Linked DNA regions of Homo sapiens: all the other regions are linked to region 2. The links come from fine-mapping of genetic effects on gene expression. A gene starts in region 2. Each other region holds a variant in brackets. All regions are shown on one strand. Distances are between the middles of the regions. Region 1 has its middle 13 kb from the start of KCNA3. Region 2 holds the start of KCNA2 (potassium voltage-gated channel subfamily A member 2). Region 3 has its middle 33 kb from the start of KCNA2.

Region 1 (2,848 bases), 55 kb after region 2:
CCTATGTATCAAACCTGCATGTTGTGCACATGTAACCTAGAAGTTAAAGTATAATTTTTTAAAAAAACAGAAAATGTTCCATTCATTATATATTTTTTAAATGTTGCTTTTTAAAAACTGTTACCCTGAAAACCTCAAGCAATTTAATTGTCTAAATGTATTAACTACATATTTCTTTTAATTTGTAAGTTAGAAAACGTTTTGGAGTATGCTGAAATTATAGACATTTTTCTACTAATAATGATCTTGAAATTTAGTCCAAACCAGTGTGATAGTTTGCTTTTGGACACAAAATTTATCTTCAGCCTTAGAATCATCGAAAGGTTCTGAGTGCCTATTGATTTTTAGAAAAATGTATGTGTTAATTTTCTCAGTGTATTTCCAAGGATTTTTTTTCCTGGCTGCCCATCTTACTGTGGTAATCTATGATGAGAACTCTTGAAGTGAATAAAAATCCAACGCTAAGTGTCATGGAGAGAAAAAGAGAGAGAGAGAGAGAGACAAGACACCAAATAAGTGCTGAGAAAACCATGTTCTATGTGCTAATAGGATGACATTCCTATCATTTATCTCTTCATTATAAATAACTTTTAAGTCTGTTGATTCTTTAAAATATGAACTCTGCACAGTTATGTACCATTTTAAAATTTCCCAAATTAAGACAATAATAACCACTTGACCAGGACAAGAAATAAAGGTTAAAGATTTGGTGCTTCCCTTCCTTAACTGCCAAAATAATTATTGAGAAATTCTGATAGCAAAATATTTCTTAAGAAGAGGATAAAGCAATACAATAGACTTATTCACTTCCTACATCCAGAATCTAGAATAGTGTTTGGCATATAGTAGACACTTTATATGCTGAATTAATGAATAAATCTCTATCACCCTGGGTAGTGTCTGACACATAGGAGGTACTCAGTAAATACATGTTGAATACATAAATGGATATATAAAAATTAGATTTATGTATTCTAGAAATTTACTAACTATATAATATAAAGACAGAAATTATAAAGACAAAAATAAACCCAGCTATAAACCCAGATGCTATAAACCCAGCTCTGGGTTTGAATATGTGAATATCATCCATCACAATATGTAGAGAAGACTATTTCCCATATATACTCCTGGTTTTAGCAGGCGCCCAAAACCAGTGGTAAATGCCCAAAGATGGTGATCTGGAATTTGAGTGTGCTTTTGATGGAAGAATCATTCACTTGCTAAATTAAATACTGTATGCCTACTGTGTGCTGGGCAATCAATTAACTATCTATTGAAATTTTTTTCTTATTGGCCTGGATTATACACTCGGTCACCTTGATCTCGCAGACAGATCACTGCTCATCAGTGATTTTAAAAGTCTTAACGCTGATTTTAGGCAAAAAGAAAGAGTACGTTCACAGTATGCTTAATTTTCACTATCAGAGTTTTAAAGTTATAATGGTCTAATAGTTATTAATGACTACTAATCATAAGAAATCACAAGTAACATGAATGACCTAGCATCCATTTTATTTCCTAAGTGCCTAGGTTCTGCTCAATGCTACTGCAGCTTTGCTTAC[C/T]TTGAGAAGTCTGCATTAAGCTATTCTTGTCTTGCTGCTGTTACATTCTTTTTATATAAAACGGTGGGCCTTAAAAAACAACCTCATGTATTAATACCTGCCTCTCAAGGCTCTTGAGATTATTAAATAAGAATGGTATAAGCATGGCATCCTAATAAAGTATAGGTGTGGAGGGGGTGGTAATTCAACGAAACAAAAATAAAAGTGATATCAGGATAATCATCATAATGTCAGCCGGGCGCGGTGGCTCACGCCTATAATCCCAGCACTTTTGGGAGGCCAACGCGGGCGGATCACGAGGTCAGGAGATCGAGACCATCTTGGCTAACAGGGTGAAACCCCGTCTCTACTAAAAATACAAAAAAAAAAATTAGCCAGGCGTGGTGGCGGGCGCCTGTAGTCACAGCTACCCGGGAGGCTGAGGCAGAAGAATTGCGTGAACCCGGGAGGCAAAACTTGCAGTGAGCCGAGACGGTGCCACTGCACTCCAGCCTGGGTGACAGAGCGAGACTCCGTCTCAAAAAAAAAAAAAAAAAAAAAAAATTCAGAATGTCTATATTAGTGGTTAAGATGTGGGTTGAAAGGCTTAGAAGAATGGACCCAAAATCGATTCTATAAAATGAGAGAAAGGAAGTACAATAGAAAACAGTGACCTATAATTGAAGATAATTTACCAAATAAATGTTCCAACATATAGAACAAGAAAAGAGAATAAGAATAGTCAAATTTCAATAATTATCAAATTTATGAAGAAGTAATTAATACCTCCAAAAGGCCTAAATGAAAGAAGTACAGAAACCTAGCTTACTTAACTGTTAGTCTCATCAACTTACATTTGATGAGAAAAGAGTTGAAGTCATTCTATAGCATGTAGTTATATGGGAACTTTGTTTTCATGTGTCTATATACTTTGACATCTATTAAATTACTTAGTGTTAGCTGCACACCAATAAGTTTTACCAGTTCTACCAAGTAAATGGTAATGAATAAGCTCAAGGACTAGAAAGATTTCTTACTCGATTCTATATAATTCTCTGATTGAGGTCTTGAAAATTATGTACTCTCAGCAAGCAAAAACCTTTAATCTCACTCAGTAATTAAAGTCAGTAATATGTTAAGATGTGAGCTTTTAAAAAAATCTAGAAAGTCATGGGAAAATGAGCTGTGAGGTATAATTGATACTACTTTGAGCCGTATTTAGGTCTACTAATAATAAATATCTTCAATTTATATGGTCACACAATAAAATGCTCTTTTAAAATCAGTTAAAAGGTCTGCAGGGA
Region 2 (2,500 bases):
GTTGCCACTTTTTGTCTCCCATCTCTCAGCCAAGAGTTCAGACACATGATCACCACCACCACAACGACAAAGCAAAATTTACTTTCACCTTGTAACTTGTCTGGGGATCAGGGGGAGCAGGTAGCAATCTCTCCAGGAACCTCTGGAATGCCCTGCATTGGGGGAAGGTGGCTGGTACAGGCCCGCTTGTAGCACACAGGCTTCATGGAGCATAACCCCATGCTAATAGGTTAAAAGTGGACCCTCTCCCAGGTGCTGCACTAATGTCTCAGATACTCATACCCAGGGAGGTATTCATGGTTGGGGAGCTTGGGCCTGGGTCTTTCTCATTGGCCTCCACCCCAGTGATTCTACACAAGGCTGTTATTAAATGATAGATTGATTTACCTGACCAGAGACGTGAAGCTCTCTTCCTTGCAGAGCTGATCAGATGCTGCAGGAATCTGAGATGCACCAACAGGCAGCCCAACTCCTCATCACGTCTTCTCACTCGAGCTAGAAATAATGGTGAGTCATTCTGGGCAGAAGGGCAGACTCTGGGTCCTGGAGGTGAGCTCTAGGATTGGGCTGGGCTGGAGGGGCGGTGAGGTGCCTGGCCAGGGGCATGCGGGACTTGAAGACAGCCGAGCATGGGCCTGGAGCCTTTTGAAGGAAGGAGGCAAGATGCAAAGCTCAGCAAAAGCTGGAGTCCTGGCTGTCCTCAGGAGGTGTGACGTTGCCTGGAAAAAAACAGCAGCAAGGTGGAACCAGGGCATTTGAACCAGCTGGTGCCAAGATTTAGGAGGGTCTGGCAGCTTCCCTCATGGGAGGTAACAGGCCCCCATGCCCATCCTCTATTCTGATGCCAGGCCTGAGGACTATCCCTCAGCCTCCTTGCCTCTTCTGGGCAGGCTTCCCATCAGCTTGAAGCATTTTCTCCCAGGGAGCAAGACTCAGGCTTGGCTGGGCCTGCCTTCTCCAGGGGCCTCCCTGGGTTGATCCAGGTTGCTAGTCCCCAGCTGCTCTCAGGAAGGACTCTGGAAGAAGCACTCCTACCCCCACATGTCAGGACACAGCAGCTCCCAAGAGGAGGGCTTAGCTCACTGCAGCCTGTCTACAAGCTCTGACCTCAGCCAGTCCTGGAAAAGAAGCACCCCACCCCCCAGCACACACACTCCTTCAGAGCGCATCTAGGGAGACCCCACACAACAAAGTCTGCACTGTACGAAAACTGGATGAACTTACTCTCCCTCCGGGATCCCTGGGCCGCAGGCCTCCCTCTGAGCCGGGTGGCATTTGAGCTGGGCAGGCGCTCGACCACTGATTTCTCCCCCAAGAGAAAATCCCTCACATCTCCTCGGCAGGGAGCACAGAATAAACGCTCCGCCTGCCTAGCTGCGAGGCGGCTTGGCAGCAGCGAGAGGGGGAGCCTGGAGGAAGCCGGCTTCCGGACTGGCCCCCTGCCGACCCAATCCCGCCGGCCCCAGGGCGGGGAGGGGTCTGGGCCCTCTCCCCATCGCCCCGGGCTCCGGCCGGGATTCCGTTCGGCGCACTCAGCGCTCGCCTCCGCGCAGAGGACCAGACCCTCCCGCTGGCCGCGGCCGCTAGCGCCACCTTAACCCCCTCCTGCCCGCGCGGTCGGCTCCTGCTGCGGGCCCAAGCGCAGTTCAGCTCTTAAGCCCCCGGCGTCCAGCCGAGGGACCGCCGAGGCTCAGTGTCCAACCCAAAATCCCGGAACCTGATCTCTGGGGGTGGGGAGTAGCCTGCGCCAGGCTGCCGCCCCAGATCTCAGCTTCCTTTTAAGCGCGGGGGCTCGGCGGCAGCCCACGGCCCCAGCGAAGGGGAAAGCCCTCTCTGCAGCAAAGCCGTTTGTTATTCTGTGCCGAAGAGGCGAATGCAGCCCGGCCGTCCCAAGTGGTTCAGGTCCTACCAACCCGCGCTATTTACCAGACATGGTTATGCTGCCAGCTGCACTTCCCACCACCCACCAGCTCCTCTCCGTGCCCTCCGCCCCGCGCCACGCAAACCCCAGAGGGTCCCGAGCCCATTCTGTGCACTCTTCTTGAGCAGGGTGCAAGTTCCCCTTGATCTCCCCGGTCTGGGACCTGCCGAGCAGACGGCAGTGGTCGGCAAGGGCTTGCCGCCGCGGACTCAGCCCAAGCCTGCTGCGCTGCAGGCTGCGCCGCCGGGTGCCCCGCAGCCCCTCTGGGCGCCGCAGCCGGGCAGGGAAGGCAGCACGCGCCGCGCAACGCCCCGACACGGATTTACCCTTCCGGATGGGCACCGGGGCCTCCATGTTCCTAGGTTACGGCCAGCGCCGGCAGAACCCCGGCAGCGGGCGGCGGCGGGGTGCGGGCGGCCAGCCGGGAGCCGGCTCTGCAGTCCCGCGGGCGGCGCGTACGGAGCTCCCGGCCGCCGCCCGCAGCCGCACCGCGCCACGCAGCGCCGCACCTGGCTCGACGGCGAACTCGAATTAAAGGGGCCGGCGGGGGCCGGGGCCGGGGCCGGGGCGACAAGCTGC
Region 3 (2,500 bases), 33 kb after region 2:
CCTGACTTATGCAGATGTCAGAGCTCAGGCTTTGGTTCTTGTGCTTGAGCTAATTGGCATCTTTGGAGAAGCTTTTCAGCCTCTGGCCTGTGGGCACCTGTCCCTGAGGGGTGGCCCATCATTCAGCCTTGGTCTTTGCATTAGGCCTGTATAGCTACCGAGTTTTCACCCCAAGCCATGTCTGATGGCCTTTGGCTGGAATCTGGGATGGTAGAAAGCTGTTGAGACAGTTGAGTCTAAATTAAATATTAGATCTGGGTGGGTTTCACATATTTCATAGCATAACTTTGTTGGGATATTTATTTGCTCTTCTCCTGGTTCTCGCAATTTAATAATTGAGTAAAATCCGTTTTGACATTCAGCACTGATTTGCTTACATTCTGCTGAAGTGCACCTGCTCTGTGAGAGAGTGGGTGTGTGTCAGGAGGCTGGGAGAAGTGGGGGCAGACAACAGAAGCTTCAAATGAGAGACATGGCTTGGGCACTGACTTTATATGTGAAAATGTGATTCAGCCTTAAACTTGTGGGTCGCTTGCTAGATGACAAGCGCTAGATCAGACTCCAGTGGGAGAGTAAAATCATGGAAGATACCGTCTTCTTCCAGGAAGCTTGTGTTGGGGAAATAACGTCAAACACAACAACACCAGCTAAAGAGCAGAGTGCAAAGACAGGTGGCTCTCCCCTAATTCCACTGCACATACACTCACAATCAGATACACATATGTACACATTAGGTCAAACCTGTGAAGACCAAACCAGGCTCTGGGTTTTGGGATTGGGGTCATCAAGACCTACAAGTAAAATCTCCTCTTTTCAAATCTGCATTTCCTTATAGCAAAATGGTGGGAGCATAGGCCCTGGAGCCAGGGGCCTGCCTGAGAATCTGGTTCCCTCCATACTAGCTGTTTATGCTTAGACATGCCACTTAACCTGTCTGTGCTTCAGTTTCCTCATCTGTAAAATGGGAATTTCAGTGTCTATTTCACAAGTTTGCTGAGAGGTTTAAAGAAGTTAAAACATGTATGCGCTTCAAACAGTGTCTGGCACATGGGCAGTGCTCAGTAGCTATGACTATTGTTCCAAAGATCTGACCACTTTTCACTGCTTGCAGAGGTAAACGGTAGATGTTCAGACCATAAGGGAAAAACAGAGGCCCATTTTTAAGATGAGAA[A/G]GTGGGACAAGTAATAGAATATCTGCCTGGTTTCAGGAGAGGAGAGGGTCCTGGAAACTTGGTTCTTCTTACACAGCTGCTGAGCCCCAACTGAATTCAATTCATCAAAAGTATAATGAGGATCTGCTGTGCACAAGGTATGTAAGTGTGGTGGGGAAACAGGTGCTTCAAGTATGGAGCCCATCCTCTACCTCAGGAGGTGGAACAGACAGATAAAAACAAGGAGTAGAACATGATAAATATCACAAATACTCAGGAAGACCCTAAGTTGTAAGAAGAGAGGAAAGTCCTTTTGAGTGTTGGAGAAGAAGATATCAGGGACAGCATACATCAGAACAGAAAGGCAGAAAAGCTTGGCATATATTTGAGAACAGGACAGAGTCTATTTTGGTTGGAGGAAGCTTGGGTGAGAAAGGGTGTTGGGCTATCACTGGAAAGTGTGGGATGCAAAGGCAGGGTGAGTTGGCACTTCATCAACAGATAATGGAAGGCCACTGAAGGCTTTCTGAACAGGAGTAGAATCTTTTTATATTTTAAAACTAGTAGACTACAGTAAGTGAGGAAGATGGAGGGATGAAAGACGACAACTTTTGTTCATTTGTTTGTTTGTTTTGCCTGGGTGACTATCTGCATGATGGTATCTGCTAGAGATAGGGAAGTCAGAAGAAAGGGCCAAATCACTGGAGAAAGAAAATGCTTTACTTGGACAGTCTGGATGGGAAGTTCCAGTGAGTCATCCTGGTGGCAATGACTGGCAGATTGTTGGAAATGGAGGAGCTAAAGCGAGAGAGGCTAAGAATAGAGATATGGATTTGGGAGTTAGTGGCAAATAGAGTTAAACTATGGGAATGTATATGATGGCCTGAGAAGAAATTATAGGAGAAGTAAGAAGGACTAAGGGCTGAGCCTGGGAGACAGGACATGGAGGGGAAAGGCAGCTGAGAGGAGCCTTGAAGAAGACTGAAGAGGAATAATTGCTACTGAGGAGAAGCAAGGCAGTTCAGTGTGATGGATGCCAAAAGATGGAGAAGTCAAGGAGGTAAGACCCAAGGAAAGGCTACTTTTGGGCTGCTGGTGACCTGGAAGAGCCATCTGCATAGAGTTCTGGGATGGGCAGAGTGAGAGAGCATGGTAGAGCAAAGGGTTGTGGGAAGACCTGAGAGGCTTTGTAGAATTAAGGGAAGAGATGAGATACCAAGCGCATTCAGTCCTGCCTATCTTCCTAATGCATGAATTAAGATCAGAAAAGAGAACTAGAGAAAGAGGCTAGATGGCTGCGAGAAGCCAGAATATTAAGAAGTTGGTCCAGGTGAGGTGGCTCACGCCTG

Evidence for each region. PIP is the estimated chance that this variant, and not a neighbour inherited with it, causes the effect.
Region 1: its variant is fine-mapped to the expression of KCNA2 in whole blood (TOPMed, PIP above 0.99).
Region 3: its variant is fine-mapped to the expression of KCNA2 in whole blood (TOPMed, PIP above 0.99).

The regions. Positions count from the first base shown.
Region 1 is chr1:110,660,029-110,662,876 of GRCh38, forward strand. It overlaps a transcript of KCNA3 not described here. Among named protein-coding and RNA genes, the nearest start is that of KCNA3, 13 kb to the right of the region's middle. The variant C/T (reference allele first, on the strand shown) is at 1,566.
Region 2 is chr1:110,605,004-110,607,503 of GRCh38, forward strand. KCNA2 (potassium voltage-gated channel subfamily A member 2) reads right to left here and starts at 1,355. Exons shown (of 3, transcript NM_004974.4): 1 at 1,225-1,355; 2 at 388-719.
Region 3 is chr1:110,638,315-110,640,814 of GRCh38, forward strand. No RefSeq gene overlaps it. Among named protein-coding and RNA genes, the nearest start is that of KCNA2, 33 kb to the left of the region's middle. The variant A/G (reference allele first, on the strand shown) is at 1,173.